Linked DNA regions of Homo sapiens. The protein of the gene in region 1 interacts with the protein of each later gene in a pairwise test. Each region holds a gene or a part of one and is shown in the gene's direction. Other genes may lie near its edges.

Evidence for each region.
Region 2: the proteins of UBE2Z (region 1) and TRAIP interact in a two-hybrid assay, tested with the Homo sapiens proteins (one large-scale study listed by BioGRID and IntAct).
Region 3: the proteins of UBE2Z (region 1) and RNF139 interact in a two-hybrid assay, tested with the Homo sapiens proteins (one large-scale study listed by BioGRID and IntAct).
Region 4: the proteins of UBE2Z (region 1) and HLTF interact in a two-hybrid assay, tested with the Homo sapiens proteins (one large-scale study listed by BioGRID and IntAct).
Region 5: the proteins of UBE2Z (region 1) and DZIP3 interact in a two-hybrid assay, tested with the Homo sapiens proteins (one large-scale study listed by BioGRID and IntAct).

What each region holds. Positions count from the first base shown.
Region 1 is NC_000017.11:48,914,907-48,918,406, forward strand, and holds part of UBE2Z (ubiquitin-conjugating enzyme E2 Z), read left to right. Parts: intron 1-1,169; coding exon 1,170-1,281; intron 1,282-3,500. UniProt on the Homo sapiens protein: Catalyzes the covalent attachment of ubiquitin to other proteins. Specific substrate for UBA6, not charged with ubiquitin by UBE1. May be involved in apoptosis regulation.
Region 2 is NC_000003.12:49,828,084-49,830,343, reverse strand, and holds the end of TRAIP (E3 ubiquitin-protein ligase TRAIP), read left to right. Parts: intron 1-275; coding exon 276-324; intron 325-577; coding exon 578-727; intron 728-835; coding exon 836-886; intron 887-1,118; coding exon 1,119-1,241; 3' UTR 1,242-1,743; downstream 1,744-2,260. UniProt on the Homo sapiens protein: E3 ubiquitin ligase required to protect genome stability in response to replication stress.
Region 3 is NC_000008.11:124,481,357-124,484,884, forward strand, and holds part of RNF139 (E3 ubiquitin-protein ligase RNF139), read left to right. Parts: intron 1-1,903; exon of another isoform or gene 1,904-2,051; intron 2,052-3,528. UniProt on the Homo sapiens protein: E3-ubiquitin ligase; acts as a negative regulator of cell proliferation through mechanisms involving G2/M arrest and cell death.
Region 4 is NC_000003.12:149,069,519-149,073,046, reverse strand, and holds part of HLTF (helicase-like transcription factor), read left to right. Parts: intron 1-1,389; coding exon 1,390-1,464; intron 1,465-1,603; coding exon 1,604-1,795; intron 1,796-3,528. UniProt on the Homo sapiens protein: Has both helicase and E3 ubiquitin ligase activities. Possesses intrinsic ATP-dependent nucleosome-remodeling activity; This activity may be required for transcriptional activation or repression of specific target promoters.
Region 5 is NC_000003.12:108,645,222-108,648,749, forward strand, and holds part of DZIP3 (E3 ubiquitin-protein ligase DZIP3), read left to right. Parts: intron 1-1,395; coding exon 1,396-1,428; intron 1,429-2,721; coding exon 2,722-2,891; coding exon of another isoform or gene 2,892-2,897; exon of another isoform or gene 2,898-3,528. UniProt on the Homo sapiens protein: E3 Ubiquitin ligase proteins mediate ubiquitination and subsequent proteasomal degradation of target proteins.

The sequences.
Region 1 (3,500 bases):
GCTACTCGGGAGGCTGAGGCACAAGAATTGCTTGAACCTGGGAGGCAGAGGTTGCAGTGAGCCAAGATCACGCCACTGCACTCCAGCCTGGGTGACAGAGGGAGACTTTGTCTCAAAAAAGAAAGAAAAGAAAATTCTTAGGTGTTCCTAGTTGACTGTATTAGCTTTATCAGCCATGTTTTTTTTTTCCTCTTTACCTAGAAAACAATGTTGGGCTGACTTACTGACAAAAGAAATTTAACGAGAGTTGACTCTGTTGTAAAGCTTCAGAGAGCAGTAGGTCTAGAGTTCCTGGGGGAGCAAAGCTGAAAAGATAGAGGCACTTAAGAGCAGTCCCCAGTGAAGTTACTATTAGGCATTACTGACTTGGGCTTTCCTCAAGTACAGCAGGGAAACAGAAGCAGGCAGTCAACTTGAACAAGCCAGTCCTGGCTTAGGTTGTGTTCGGCTTCCAGCTCCGGTGCCATCTCTTCAATTAATTGAGCTAAAAATAAATGTCATTAACATCCAAGCTGTCCCCTCCCCCTAATACTTGGTTGGGTTTATGAAAGAGAGGAGCAATTTTGGTATTTGACGTTTTCCATATATTATTTTCAGACCTTCCACTGTCTGGAAGCACCCCTTATTCTCTTCCTGTTCTTTGGAAGAGTTGTGTAGTCTTAAGAGAATTTGACACTCCTTGGGGGTTTGATACAGAACTGGATCCCCAATAGCCCCACCACATGGCCTCTAACCAGATGGCTTCAGTCACCTGTGTCCCTTTATGCTCAACTTCCCTCTCCCCTCACTAACTCCATCACCACCCATAAACAAGCTCTTTGAGATCCACGGAGATTAACATTTAGACAACTTTGGAGCTAATTGCTTACCTAATTTCTTTTGTTTTGATTGTCGTAACTGTTTCTAGTACAAAGAAAATCCCTTCAAAGTTACATAGCTTGCTATTACCTGTTCTTTTGCCCCCCCCCCTTGATTTGAGGATTAGGCAATTGACTGATTTCTGGTGAAATCAGAACATGAGCATGAGACAGAGGCTGGGAAATTCCAGAGTATTAATAGTGAAAGAGAAACTTATGGTGAGTCACTTATGGTGGTGTTGCCGGGCCCCAGGGTACTTGTTCCCTATTCTTTCTCTGCCTCACCCTCCATTCCTTCTGATGTGTTTACAGTACATGGACTGGACCTGCCTGGAGCCCAGCCCAGAGCATCTCCTCAGTGCTCATCTCTATCCAGTCCCTGATGACTGAGAACCCCTATCACAATGAGCCCGGCTTTGAACAGGTAAGGCCAGATGGGCCTGGCTCTGGGGTGTAGACTATTGTTTTTGTTTGTTTGGTTGGTTGGTTTTTTTGTTTTTTTTTTTTTTTGAGACAGAGTCTTCCTCTGTCACCTAGGCTGTAGTGCAGTGGTGCAATCTCAGCTTACTGCAACCTCCGCCTCCCGGGTTCAAGCCATTCTGTCTCAGCCTCCCAAGTAGCTGGGACTACAGGCGTGTACCACCATGCCTGGCTAATTTTTATATTTTTAGTAGAGATGGGGTTTCACCATATTGGCCAGGCTGGTCTCCAGCTCCTGACCTGGTGATCCGCCTGCCTCGGCCTCCCAGAGTGCTGGGATTACAGGCGTGAGCCACCGCGCCCAGCCAGAATAGTGTTTTAAGAGATCTGCTTGGGAGGTTTTTTTTGTTTTGTTTTGTTTTGTTTTGTTTTGGACCTAGCACAGCCCCATGTACTACATTTGTTGGTATAGGGAAAAAAAGGGAATTGACACGTGTTTTTTAGTAATGAAATTTTTTGCCGACCACTGTGGCTCACACCTGTAATCCCAGCACTTTGGGAGGCTGAGGCAGGCAGGTGGATCACCTGAGGTCAGGAGTTTGAGACCAGCCTGGCCAACCTGGTAAAACCCCATCTCTACTAAAAATTAACTGGTCAGAAGTTTGAGACCAGCCTGGCCAACATGGTGAAAACCTGTCTCTACTAAAAATAAAAGAAATTAGCTGGGTGTGATCACTTGAACCCTGGAGGCAGAGGTTGCAGTGAGCTGAGATCACGCCATTACACTCCAGCCTGGGTAAGGAGCGAAACTCGGTCCCCCCACCCCCAAAAAAATAATAATGGCCAGGCGCGGTGGCTCACACCTGTAATCCCAGCACTTTGGGAGGCCGAGGCGGGCAGATCACAAGGTCAGAAGTTTGAGATCATCCTGGCTAACACAGTGAAACCCAGTCTGTACTAAAAATACAAAAAATTAGCTGGGTGTGGTGGCAGGCGCCTGTAGTCCCAGCTACTCGGAGGCTGAGACAGGAGAATGGCGTGAACCCAGGTGGTGGAGCTTACAGTGAGCCAAGATTGGGCCATTGCATTCCAGCCTGAGCGACAGAGCGAGACACCGTCTTAAAAAAATAATAATAATAATGAATTTTTTTATTTGTGAGAGTTACAATAAGTATGTGACTTGGATTCCTTTATAGCATGGAAGTCAATGGACTCCTTTGGAAATTAATTCTGACCTGCTTTGGGGGTTGTGGCATCCAGTGGGTTCTATGTGCCTATATTCTCAGCATCCCCTAAAGTTGCTCTGTAGGGACTACTACCCAGCCAGCTGTTCTTCTGGGGTTATGAAGGACTGTTACCTGCAGAGTCAAAGGAGCTAGTCATTAGGAGTCCCGGGCAAGACTTTTTGAGTTAACAGTGCCAACGAGAAGGTGGAGAAAACTCACATTTTTCCAAGAGCATGCTCTGTGCTGGACACTACCAAGTTTTTATATATAATTTCTTGTTTAACCTTCATACTATGTGAGGTTAAATATGGTTATTCCCATTTTCAAGTGAAATAATGTTGCCTCAGAGAGGTTAATTAACTTTCACAAAGACACACAGATCAGGATAGGACCCCAGACTTACATTGGAGCCCAACTTCTCCCACTCTTCCGATGTGCCTTCCTGAATTACTCATGAGCACGGGAAAAAGTTCCAGTGATAGTCCCAAAAGAAAATGATTCCGGATAGGTGATTAGAACAGCTTAATTAATTTATTTATTTTTTGAGACAGAGTTTCACTATTGTTACCCAGGCTGGAGTGTAATGGCACAATCTCGGCTCACAGCAACTTCTGCCTCCCAGGTTCAAGTGATTCCTCTGCCTCAGCCTCCCGAGTAGCTGGGATTACGGGCACGCACCACCACACCTGGCTAATTTTTTGTATTTTTAGTAGAGAAGGGGTTTCACCATCTTGGCCAGGCTGGTTTCGAATTTCGGACCTCAGGTGATCCACTCGCCTTGGCCTCTGAAAGTGCTGGGATTACAGGCGTGAGCAACCATGCCTGGCCAACTTAATTTATTTTTAAACTATTACATATGACACCAACTTTGATTCTTCCTCTATAGACCTGAACAAAGGATAATAAAATGCCTTTCAAAAATGAAAAATAAAAATTTTTTTTGAGACAGAGTCTCACTCCATCACTCAGGCTGGAGTGCAGTGGTGTGATCTCGGCT
Region 2 (2,260 bases), on another chromosome or scaffold:
GGAGCGTTGGAATTTGGCCTTGAGTGGAAGCCACAGGATTGGGACATGGTCCAGTCATCCCCAGTCATCCCTGTCTCTGCCACCCTACTGGCTGTGGCTGTCCAGCTGTTAACAGACCTGCACTTGGGGTGGGATCACTGAGGTGCCTTGCCCAGAATGCAGGCATGGCAGCAGCAGTGCCACATGGTAACTCCCCAAGGGGCGTGTGCTGAGCCTGGTTCACCTGCCCCCATGTCTTGCTTACCTACCCCTTGCCTTCTCTCTCATTCTTGTAGCTCCCCAATTCAGGATGTCCCCAAGAAGATATGCAAAGGCCCCAGGAAGGTAAGAGCTTTCTAGAAGAAGCACAGTCTAACCTTTGGCAGGACTGGACTTTTGGGAGGGCACGGTCTTGCCAGAGCCTTGTCACTCCTGGTCCAGGACTGAGGTACTTCGGAGCCACCCTTGGGATTCTACTCATTATCCCTCCTGCCTCCTAGTGAGGCATCAGAGATCCTGATCTTGTTCCACCACCACTACCCTCCCTCCTTTGCTGACATCCAGCTCATCAAGTCTGGCCCTGGGGTCTTCCCTGCAGGAGTCCCAGCTCTCACTGGGTGGCCAGAGCTGTGCAGGAGAGCCAGATGAGGAACTGGTTGGTGCCTTCCCTATTTTTGTCCGGAATGCCATCCTAGGCCAGAAACAGCCCAAGAGGCCCAGGTCAGAGTCCTCTTGCAGCAAAGATGTGGTGAGTGTGGCTTCCCACAGTGGCAGGAGCCAGCCCTCTTGGGTAGAAATGGGTGGCCAGCCCCCCAGCCCATTAGCCTGGCCCACTCATCTCTTCCTTCCACCCTAGGTAAGGACAGGCTTCGATGGGCTCGGTGGCCGGACAAAATTCATCCAGCCTGTATCCTTTTCCTGTGATGTTGAGCTGAGCTGAACTGTGGAGCCCATACTATGCCTCACCTATACCCCCAGCCTGCCAGTGCCAACAGCCTCAGGTGTGCAGTGCTGGGCCTCATTCTGTGTATCAGCGCCGCCCACCCCCGGCTCTGAGCCTTTCTTGCCCTGCATTGCAGTCCTTTCTCGCCCTGCATTGCAGTCCTTTCTCCATGCCTCTTCCTTGACAGCTCCTCCAGACTGACACAGTCATGATCCGCCCATTGCCTGTTAAGCCCAAGACCAAGGTTAAGCAGAGGGTGAGGGTGAAGACAGTGCCTTCTCTCTTCCAGGCCAAGCTGGACACCTTCCTGTGGTCGTGAGAACAGTGAGTCTGACCAATGGCCAGACACATGCCTGCAACTTGTAGGTCAAGGACTGTCCAGGCAGGGGTTTTGTGGACAGAGCCCCACTTTCGGGACCAGCCTGAGGTGTAAGGGCAGACAAACAGGTGAGGGTGAGTGTGGCACCCAGAGACTGCTCTTCCTGCCCTCACCCTGCCCCACTCCTACGACTGGGAGCTGACATGACCAGCCCACTGATCCTGTCAGCAGGTCCTGCTCCTGTTGCCAGGCTCCTGTTTATAGCCATGATCAGATGTGGTCAGACTCTTTCTGGGCCTGGAGACCACGGTCACTTGTTGACTGTCTCTGTGGACCAGAGTGCTTGAGGCATCTCAGGCAGCCTCAGCCCAAGCTTCTACCTGCCTTTGACTTGCTTCTAGGCATAGCCTGGGCCAAGCAGGGTGGGGAATGGAGGATAGCATGGGATGTATGGAGAGGATGGAAGATTTTCATGTAAAATAAAATTAAAAAAAAAAAACAATCTCTTCTTCCTGGTTCTGAGAGTGTAAATTTGCACCAACACTTTAGAAAACTGTTTGGCATGACTTTCTAAAGCAGGAACATCGCCAAGCCTCAGATCCAGCAGTTCCTTCCCTAGGCATATGCCTTCTCATGGGGCACAGGAAGACTCTAGAAAGAATGAGATCACTGCAGCTTTTCTCACAGTCTCTAACCTGGGCACAGCCTAAAGGCCATAAGTAGGAAAGTGAACGAGTAAATGGAAATCTATCTATACAGTGTACTCACAGCAAATAACCAGCGACCACTACCTTCCGTTCCTACCCACGTTTAAACGCTACCAGCCAAATTGCTAGCTTTTGACTTTTGGCTGCAAAGGCACTTTCTTTCTTTTCTTTCTTTTTCTTTCTTTCTTTTTTTTTTTTTTCTTTTTGCAACAGGGTCTCCCTCTGTCTCCCAGGCTGGAGTGCAGTGGCACAATCACAGTTCACTGCAGCCTCAACCTCCCAGGCTCAGGTGATCCTCCCACCTCAGCCTCC
Region 3 (3,528 bases), on another chromosome or scaffold:
TATGTTTTGTACCCTGATTTTTAGTCATAAGTTTCCAAAAGAGGGTAAGGGTATGAATAGACTTTACACATAAAAGAGTGAAACACTTTGTTATGTAACATGTATAGTAAGTTTTTATTTTTTCTTTTGTTTTTATTTGCCTGTTTTTGGTAATCCAAATTGAAAAGGCCTGAACTCTTTCATGAGTTGAGTTCATATATAGTTTCAAAGTTCCTGAATTGATTTGGATACCTGCCTCTTTTTGGCTACCTTGAAAACTCTAGTGAACTCTCTTAATCACTGGAGAATTGGACTGAGATCTCTGAGTTGTGATTTCAGTAAATTCTGTTCTCAAAATTTTTTATAAAGCAGCATTTATATACAGTCTTGATTACTTGTGCAAGTCACTTCCAAATCCTAATGAGAAACTGTCTCTGGACTTTTATATTTTCTTAGACCTACAGTTTAAATACCAAGAAAGGCTTTCATGTCTAATGTAAAAATGCAGTGAAACTTTGATATTATTCTGCAAAGGCCATGAGAAAGATGATTACTTTGGAGACTTGTTACTTAGGATATTGGTTTTTAAAATGAGAGCAGATTCTTCCCAAATTCCATAGGTAGGAACGTGACTATAAAAGGAAAATCTATGAACCCCATATACCTACAAACTTTGGGTAGGAATTAAAACAAACATATACTATTCTTGAAATGTTAACTCACTATTACATCTTGGGGGGTGTGATTTTAATCAGGATAGAGTATTGTCAGATTGTTACTTGCTGGGATACATCCAAATTTTGAGGTTGTAGTCTTACTACATTATTTGTCTATCTGATGCCTTCCCCTTTTTTTCTTTGATACATTTGCATAAAGCAAAATGGCACTTTTTCACTAGAAATGTTTCTAAAACCCAAATAATTTCTTCATTTGTGTGTAGTAAAAACAAGCTTCAGGAAAAAAGTTATTAGAATTTTAAAAATTAGTTATAAAATTATGGCAAAGCTCATGAATAGTTACTGAAGATTAATTTACTACTTTGTGAATAGCAAGTTGACAAAAATAATTTACAGTTCCTGCTTGACTTTCTCCCCTCTAAGTGGCATAAAGTAGAACTAGAGTTATTTTGTTTTGGTTTTGACCCAACTTAGAAGATTTGTTTTAAAGTTTCTGAAGTTTTGTCTCAGGAAAATAAGGTGGTTTTCCATGTAGAGAATGTAAGATTACATATGGCATCTGGTAGGCTGAATTAATTCCATTTTCTTGTTACCTTCCATGGAAGAAGTTTCTAATAAAAAAATCTTTTCAGGGCCGAGCGCAGTGGCTCACGCCTATAATCGCAGTAGTTTGGGAGGCCGAAGCGGGTGGATCACCTGAGGTCAGGAGTTTGAGACCAGCCTGACCAACGTGGAAAAACCCTGTCTCTACTGAAAATGCAAAATTAGCTGGGAGTGGTGGTACATACCTGTAATCCCAGCTTCTTGGGAGGCTGAAGCAGAAGAATCGCTTGAACCTGGGAGGCAGAGGTTGCAGTGAGCCAAGATCACGCCATTGCACTCCAGCCTGGGCAACAGGAGCGAAACTCCATTAAAAAAAATATAAAAAAAAATATATATATATATAATATATATATATTATTTAAATATATATATATTTAAAAATATATATATTAAAAATATATATATATATTTAAATATATATATATTTAAAAATATATCTATTAAAAATATATATATATTATTTAAATATATATATATTTAAAAATATATATATTAAAAATATATATATTTAAAAGAGCCTGTTCTGAGCTCACAACTCTTTGGGGGATTATTAGTGGCCCATTTTCTTGGGGAATCAGGTGGTTTGTATTTAGAGGTTTATATGTCTTCTACTTTATTGTGTCCTTTTGTTTTCCTTTTCACAGATGACTTGACATTTTGGCACAGAATACATTTTAAATCCCTGGACAGAGTCATCACTTAAATGAACTAGCCCTTGCTTATATGTGCAGTGGATTGTGAAATGCGTCTACTGTAATAATATGCAATGTCTTGATTACCTGCTGAAATAAGGTGGATAGATGGATTTTTATTTTATTTAATATTTATTTATTTATGTATTTTGAGACAGGGTCTCACTGTCACCCAGGCTGGCATGCAGTGGTGCGATCTCAGCTAACTGCAATGCCTCCCGGGTTCAAGCGATTCTCCCACCTCAACCCCCTGAGTAGCTGGGAGTACAGGCACGTGCTACCACCCTGGCATATTTTTATATTTTTGGTAGAGACAGGGTTTCACCATGTTGACATGGTCTTGAACTCCTGGCCTCAAGTGATCCACCCGCCTCAGCCTCCCAAAGTGCTGGGATTACCATTGTGAGCCACCACACCCAGCCAAGATGGATTTTTAATTTGGAGTTTGTCACTTTTTCTGTACTCCAGGGTATGGTTTCTCATTGTCTGAAACATAGATTTTATTTTTCAAGCAGGCTATATTTTGTGGTTGCCTTTAAAAACATCCAGATGTGACAGACATTTCCTAATGAATACTAATTGTACTTATTTTGTACAAAATATTGTAGAATCCATAGATGGACAGGGTAGGATCTTTGCTTTCTGTTATAGATACATGTGTAATAGGGTAGATTATACTTAGATAACTGCAGACTACAATATCAGGTGATATATGAGTGTTAAATGTTTCACTAAGTTCTGCAGGTATGCTGAAAGAACAGTTTCTATCAAAGAAAGTAGGTTTCTAGGATAGGTAGGATTTGAATAGTCAGGGATTGGGAGGTTGGGGACATCATTCCAAGCAAAAAGAATGTAAACACTGCTGTAGCTATAGTGGAGAAAGGAATGTGTTTGGGGAATCCAAGTCTGGAGCACTGATGTGTGTGTGTTAGGAGGAATATTACTGTAAAGCAAATTGGGTTCTTGAATGCCAGGAGCAAGAATGTAGATTTTAGTTGATAGTAATTTCAGAGCCGCTGAAGTATTTTGAGCAGGGAATGAAGAAAGGCAATTTGGTGATGGCTTGTAAATGGATTTGGACAAGATGAGGGTTTTTTGAGACAGACTGATTGATTGGTGTCACAGAAAAGGGAGATAGAGGTGTTAGAAGAATTTGGCAACTAATTGGCAAAGTTTGAGCATGTGGGGCTGGGTTGGGAGTATCTCTAAAAGAACAATAATGGTACCTTCAACTGAAATAGCAAATCACAAGGAAAAGCTGATTCTAGTTTAAGGCAAGTCGAGTTTCAGAACTTTGGAGATTTGCAGTTGTAGGAGTGAAAGTAGGTGAGTATTCAGATGTCATTCCCATTGTTGAAACCTTGGATAATAATGTGTTTATTGTAATCCTACTTAAAATATGCATTTCTGTCAGAGTACAAAGAAAGATGGTGTCTATGGAGTGGGGGAAGGAGAATTACCATTTTCTAAAAACATGTCTTGGTTTTCTGAGTGTTACTTTTGTAATGTGAAGAACAATAAAAAGAGTTGACTATTTTAAGAAACAGATTCAGCATTATACAGGAAAAAGGGAACTT
Region 4 (3,528 bases), on another chromosome or scaffold:
GTACTGATAAGGAATAAATCCATACGTGAACATTTGTACCCAACATACAAAACACACACGTTCCTGTTTATGCACGGCATATTTTTGTATCTGAAATGTTTTAAATGTTCAAGTAGTAATTTTAAGAAAAAAATTGAAGCTGAGACTTAACTCCTTTCAGTAATTTTGCAAATGCAGTGCTAAAGATTTAACTCCAAATTCTTCACATTGTCTAATTTGTAATTTAGGATGAGTTATGCTGAATTTCTTTGAAAAAAAAGTATATAAAGTAATTAATGCAGATCAATTTAAAAATAACATTAAAACTTTTTTGATGTTTGTATCTACCAGTGTTAGTCCTTTTATCTACTAATTGTAGTTACCATATTTACCCTGCTTATTGTTAGAAGGACTTGAGCTTGTTTCTGGTAGATAAGCCCCCGGTTACTTCTGATTTTTTAGACCTGGCCTGATTTCTTCTGAGCTGCTGCTGTGTTCATGTGTTAATTTTCAAAAATATCTGTATCACATATATGTTGATATAAAATTGGACTAACCTAGTTTAAATAGTCAATTAAGTTAGCATAATAATAAAAGTATCCTATAGTGCATGGCAAGTTCCTTATTGCAGTAATAATAAATGGAATGTCATTGACCTGGTAGGACTGAGAAAATATTTTGAATACAACTGATAGCATCACAGAATTTTAATGGCAGAAGGAACCTTAGAGACAATCTAAATTTAGTTCATCCCTTTCATTTTATAGGAATAAGACATGGGGCCATAAAGGTCAAGTCTTGCTGAAACTTACATATAAGCTTATTTGTGATAAAACTGTGACTGAAACTCGGGACTTAAAATTCTTTTATATTCTTTTACCTCCTAACAACTAAAGCACCTGTTCATTCGCTCTTCAGTGAGTAGTGTAATTCTAGAGTTGATTTATGTGCCTTTTTGGCGTTTGACTAGTTTGTGGTTTTTAAATTTAATTTAATTTCAATTTCTTAATTTTTTGGGACAGGGTCTCACTTTCTTGCCCAGGCTGGAGTGCAGTGGCATAATCATGGTTCACTCTATCCTCTACCTACTAGGCTGAAGTGATCCTCCCATCTCAGCATCCCTAGGAGCCAGAACTACAGGCATGCACCCCCATGCCTGGCTAATTTTTTAAAAATTTTTTTGTAGAGATGGGATCTCTCACTATGTTATCCAGGCTGGTCTCAAACTCCTGAGCTCAAGTGATCCTCCCACCTTGGTCTCCCAAAGTGCTGAGATTATTGGCATGAGCCACCACTCCTGGCCCGTTTGACATTAACGCCAGTTAATTAAATGATTTCAAATCTGACTTAAATGCAAGTATTATTTTAATTAGTTTGTTTTACATTGTTTCTTGTTGCTGTTTATTGTAGCTTAAAACAGAATTTGACAAATTGTTTGAAGATTTAAAAGAAGATGATAAAACCCATGAAATGGAACCAGCTGAGGTATTGAACCAATATTTTTTATTTAAGACTACTCAGAATGTTTAAATATACTTAGAATCTACTTTTTGTTTAATCACAGGATCTGCATGTGAAAAAGGAATGGCTTAATGTATTTCGCTTTATGACTTTTTATTTATAGGCTATTGAAACACCACTGCTTCCACATCAAAAACAAGCTCTAGCTTGGATGGTGTCACGGGAAAATAGCAAAGAACTTCCACCATTCTGGGAACAGCGAAATGACTTATACTATAACACAATAACAAATTTTTCTGAGAAGGACCGACCAGAAAATGTCCATGGAGGAATTTTAGCTGATGATATGGGTTTGGTAATTATTTTTTTCTTTAGTTAATAAAATCTAATTTTGTGATTATGATTTTCTAGAAAGTAATTTTGAAGTAAAAAGAGATAGGAATATGTTGGTACCAGTTTGGGACTAGATCTTACTATCTTTGTAGAACACAGTTTTTCCTGTAGTTTTTAGTTAAAATAGTGGTATAAAGATGTGTTCCTCAGTTTTCTTTTTTTTTTTTTTGAGATGGAGTCTTGCTCTGTCACCCAGGCTGGAGTGCAGTGACGCGATCTTGGCTCACTGCAGCCTCCGCCTCCCAGGTTCAAGCAGTTCTCCTGTCTCAGACTTCCAAATAGCTGGGATTACAGGCATGTGCCACCATGCCCAGCTAATTTTTGTATTTTTAGTAGAGACAGGGTTTTACCACGTTGGCCAGGCTGGTTTTGAACTCCTGACTTCAAGTGATCCGCCCGCCTTGGCCTCCCAAAGTGCTGGGGTTACAGATGTGAGCCACCCTGCCTGGCCATGTTTCTCAATTTTCTTTGCTCTTTGAAATTCAGGGTGACCTGTCTTTCATAGGTTTTCTTTTAAAAAGTAAAGACAAAACAATGTTATGTGAAATTGTATTCCATCACAAATATTGTGTTATGCAGAGTATTAAATAGATACTTATGTGTCCTTACACTAGCAGTTTTTATATTTTTCAGTCTCAGTAACCCTTTCTACTCATAAAAATTACTGATTTCAAAGAGCTTTTGCTTTTGTGTGCTGTTATCAGTAGTTATAGTATTAGGCAGTGGTAGCTAAAGATAGCAGTACAAACTCATTGCTTGTTAACATAAATAGCATATTTTTAAAAGAAAAATAACTATGCCAAAACATTAACATTTTTGTTGCAACAACTGGCATTGTCACATTTTTGCACATCTCTGTGTTTGGCCGAATAGATGGCAGCTGAATTCTCACCTGCTTCTTCATTCAGTCTGTTCTGTTAGGTTGTTTTGGTTGAAGTATATGAAGAAAATTTGTCCTTACGACGGTATGTTGCTGTAAAGAGAGGAGTATTGTAATAGCTTTTTAGATAATTGCAGATTTCTTTGATATACTGCATCAAAATTCAATAAATATTAGTTTATTAAAGGTTAATTGTTGTAATATGGAACGCTAAATCATATCAGTGAGCTTTTTATACCCTGTTTTGTTAAAATCTATTTGTGTATCTTGCTCATTGAATGAATATTTTACCCATGTATGATTTTATAACACCAGGCATTGCTCATTTAGAAAATGTTGGTTCATTGAGTTGGGCAGACCTACTAAATGTTGATGTATTTCATATGCAATATCCAAAACTTACATTCATTAATATTACCACTGATGTTATTAGAAAATCATTTACATTTTGGGAAGGCACTATGTTCATAGTGTCACACACAACTTTTCCAACATTCTAATTTTCTATTGAAAACTCACATTTTATCATTGACAAGCTCAGTTGTTTCCTTTGTAGATGACAGCCTCACTTTGTTCATTTTCTAGAAAGTATCTTTCAGACACTCAGTCGTGATTGATAGTTGTCATTCAAGTAAAAATGGTGTCGCATGAAAAAAGTGACTAGTTGAGCTTATAACTCCCATCTTGAGTGATTTTTCTCTAGCTAACCCTCATAGTTTGATATGCAACAGAAGTAGTTAATATGTAGTTTCCATTTCACTACACAGAATATTAAAAAGATTTGTACTGAAGTAATGAGACTTAATAAAATTAAT
Region 5 (3,528 bases), on another chromosome or scaffold:
AATTGTTGAAGACTTTTGAGTACAGTTTTATCACTTTAAGTGGAGTTTTATTCTCCAAAATTAATAAAGTTTAAAACCATGACATGTAAGTACTGTGTGGTTTCAAAGATGTTCGTTTAGACACAGTGTGGATGTATGTTTCTTCTACTTTCTAGCAGAATCTTGTTTAGTTTACAATTTTAGCAGCTATTCATTGGCTGTAGATAATTTTAAAAATCAGGTAACATTCATGCAAGTGTTTGTATTGGCCACTCCCAAACTTGTCTATTGATACGGAAAAGACTTCAGACCTCCTTTCCCACATCTCAGGATACCTTCTCAGCTATTCTTTTGGAAAGCAGAGTTCAAGGCATGACAACATCTCTGAAACCCTGCTGTGCTATTCAGGATGACTTCCTGGTCTCAAGTTATTTACAGCCTAATGAACAACTGATAACCACACTGATGCTATATAAACATACAACTGTAAAAGTTTCTAGTGAACTGGTCCAGATTTTCTTCAGAGATAATTGATGTGCCCAATTTCAGTCCTGGTATTTACTAAGGCTCTGGAATACCTTTGTTTTCTTGCATAATCTAAGAATGAAAGAGGAGGACACTGAGTTTGATATATAAGAAAGTCAGGCAAGAATTTTTGACTTATAAATTAGGGTTTTAAAAAATACATTTACTCTATTAGGATTTTAAATAATTCATGAGAATAGAGTATTTGAGAAAGAGTTTTGAGCACCCATTCAATTCAAAGCATTTTAAGCAGTTCTTACTCAAGTACACTGAAGAGCTTATTGGTCAAGTCCCTTTACTAGAGGCTTTCTTACCATCTTATATTTCTTTCCTCAGCTATTCTAGTTGCTTTTTATTTGGATATCTGATAATTTGATTAACATCCATCATCCCACTAAATCTCCATGAAGATTGTCTTTTTTTTTCTTCACCATTCAATCTCTAGAGCTTAACACAGCCTGATGTACATTGTAGGTGCTCAATAAATATTAATGGGCAAGGAGAGCAAGTGATGATCAGATAAATCAGATTGCTAAAAATAGGTCCCAACTTTCAGTGGAGGTTTGCTGTGTAATTAACTATTATTTCATGGCCTTAGATGGTAAACATAAATATTCGTTGCTTGGTTTAAAGTGCTTGTGTTCTAGGCTTTATCTGTGATACCACATTTTTGTTTACTTTTTTTTCTCTAATCATGGGTTTATAACCTTTATGTGATAATCTAAAGATTGTGCCTTGTCTAAACTGGATTGATGAGCAAAGCTGGTTATTTTTCCAGTTACTTACAGAATAAATTGGTGCAATATAAAAATATTCTGCCTTAATCCTAGCCAGACATTCATTTGTTGCGTTTGCAATTGTACATCTAAAATTTTTCTTTATGTATTATAGGAATTGCTCTACAGTCAATAACAGGCAGTCAGCGTAAGTATATTTAGAAATAAAATGTGTAAATGACTTTTTAACAAGGGATACCTATGAAATTTTTATTTGTTCAGATAAACTAAATGATAAACTATAATTGTGAAGAACTTGGGCCAGGCGCAGTGGCTCACGCCTATAATCCCTGTACTTTGGGAGGCTGAGGCAGGTGGATCACAAGGTCAGGAGATCGAGACCATCTTGGCCAACATGGTGAAACCCCGTCTCTACTAAAAATACAAAAATTAGCCAGGTGTGGTGGCGGGTGCCTGTAGTCCCAGCTACTCAAGAGGCTGAGGCAGGAAAATTGCTTGAACATGGAAGGCAGAGGTTGCAGTGAGCCAAGATCACGCCACTGCATTCCAGCCTGGGCGACAGAGCGAGATTCAGTCTCAAAAAAAAAGAACTTGGAAAATGATGTGATCAAATCACCACTGGTCTGGCTGAATCGAGAATGAGCTTTATTCTGCCTTTGGCTTAGTGCATGTGCTTCAGGGTTTTCCCAAGGATGATGTTCTAACGTTTTACTCACAAAAACTTCAGCAGGCAAAAATACCTTCCTGCTTTCTCTGTTTGGTGTTTAGCGTGTATAACTTTATTTAGTCTGTCTATTGTTTATAGCTATATACTTTTTTTGCCAGGTGATAAGTTGTAATTGTTTAATTTCCATTTTTGTGCTATTTTTTTTAAGTGTAATTAATATTATTCAATTAAAATTATACTTAAAAAAAACACCACCACAGATTTGTTTGGGATAAAATGCTGGACTCTCTGGAGACCAGTCAGACAAAGTCCACAAGTTTTGAGACTGAGTCTCTGGGGCAATATCAAGGAGCAAAGTCTCAAAGAAAAGGTCACATAATAGGGGGCTCACACCCCTCTTATGAAAAAGAAAACAGAAAAAATAGATCTTTTGTCTTCTTTTTCTTTATATTTCAGATATATGTGCTAAAATAATACTAGTTGCATTATTAATAGGATCAAGGTCAGGACATGCAAAAAGTTAGTATTTAGAGTCTACTTATGTTCTAGAGTATCTAATATCTAGAGTCTACCTAAGATTCCAGTAGGTAACATAGCACTCAGGTTCACACTGATTAGTTCCAGGCTGGTGTTTGTACATATTATTTGGTAACTGATAAATGAACATCACATTTTCATCGAGTAATTGAAAAGAGTAAGATATATTTTATTTCTGTTTTGTGAATGTTGCTTTTTTGGGCAAACATTATAACATTGATAAGAAGCTGAAATTGCTTTCATCTAGATTTTGAGAATTTTGTCTTTTATGTTTAGGTATTGAAATAGAAGAGTTACAGAATGAGGAAGAAGAACTAAGTCCACCTCTCATGGAGTACAATATAAATGTGAAATCACACCCTGAGATACAGTTTGCAGAAATTAATAAAGATGGGACCTCAATACCCAGTGAATCTTCAACAGAATCTCTTAAAGATCTCCAGGAAGTATAAGCTCTCATTAATATTTGAGTTAGAAGAACTTATTCTGGGCCTTTAATTTGTTGCATGTGCTGTACTTAAAGCATCCCAGATAATTTTAGCTTATATTTTCATAGTGTTTATACAGAGCTTGAATTGGAATGGTCCTTTCCTTCCTTGCCTCAGTACTTCCTTCCATAATCTTTCCTGCCATAACCATTTATTTTGCCACCATTTCTTAAACACTTATGTGGCAGGCATTATGCTAGACTGTAATATGTTTTTTTAATCCCAGTTGAAGTGGATGTGGGAAGGTATTAGAAAGTAGAAGAAAGTATAGTCTAAAATAGAGAGGAAAGAAAGGAAGAGAAAAGTGGGATATTTCAAAACCATTTGCGCAGAGGTAGAATGAAATTCGTCCAGAATGGAATCTCCGTATTTCTTTACAAATAAGTGGTAACAGTTATTATATAGTCACTAAATTATCCTTAGATCTTTCATCTTATAGGCATGAATATGTTGCTTTTTAAAAAGTGTCTTCCTCCTTTGTTACATCCATGTGTGTAAGTGAGCATCTGTGAACTTTTATCAGTAACCTACTTATTGACATTATGTGTTGTTCCTTTATTCATCAGTGATTATTTAAGGACAGAAGACTAGGATT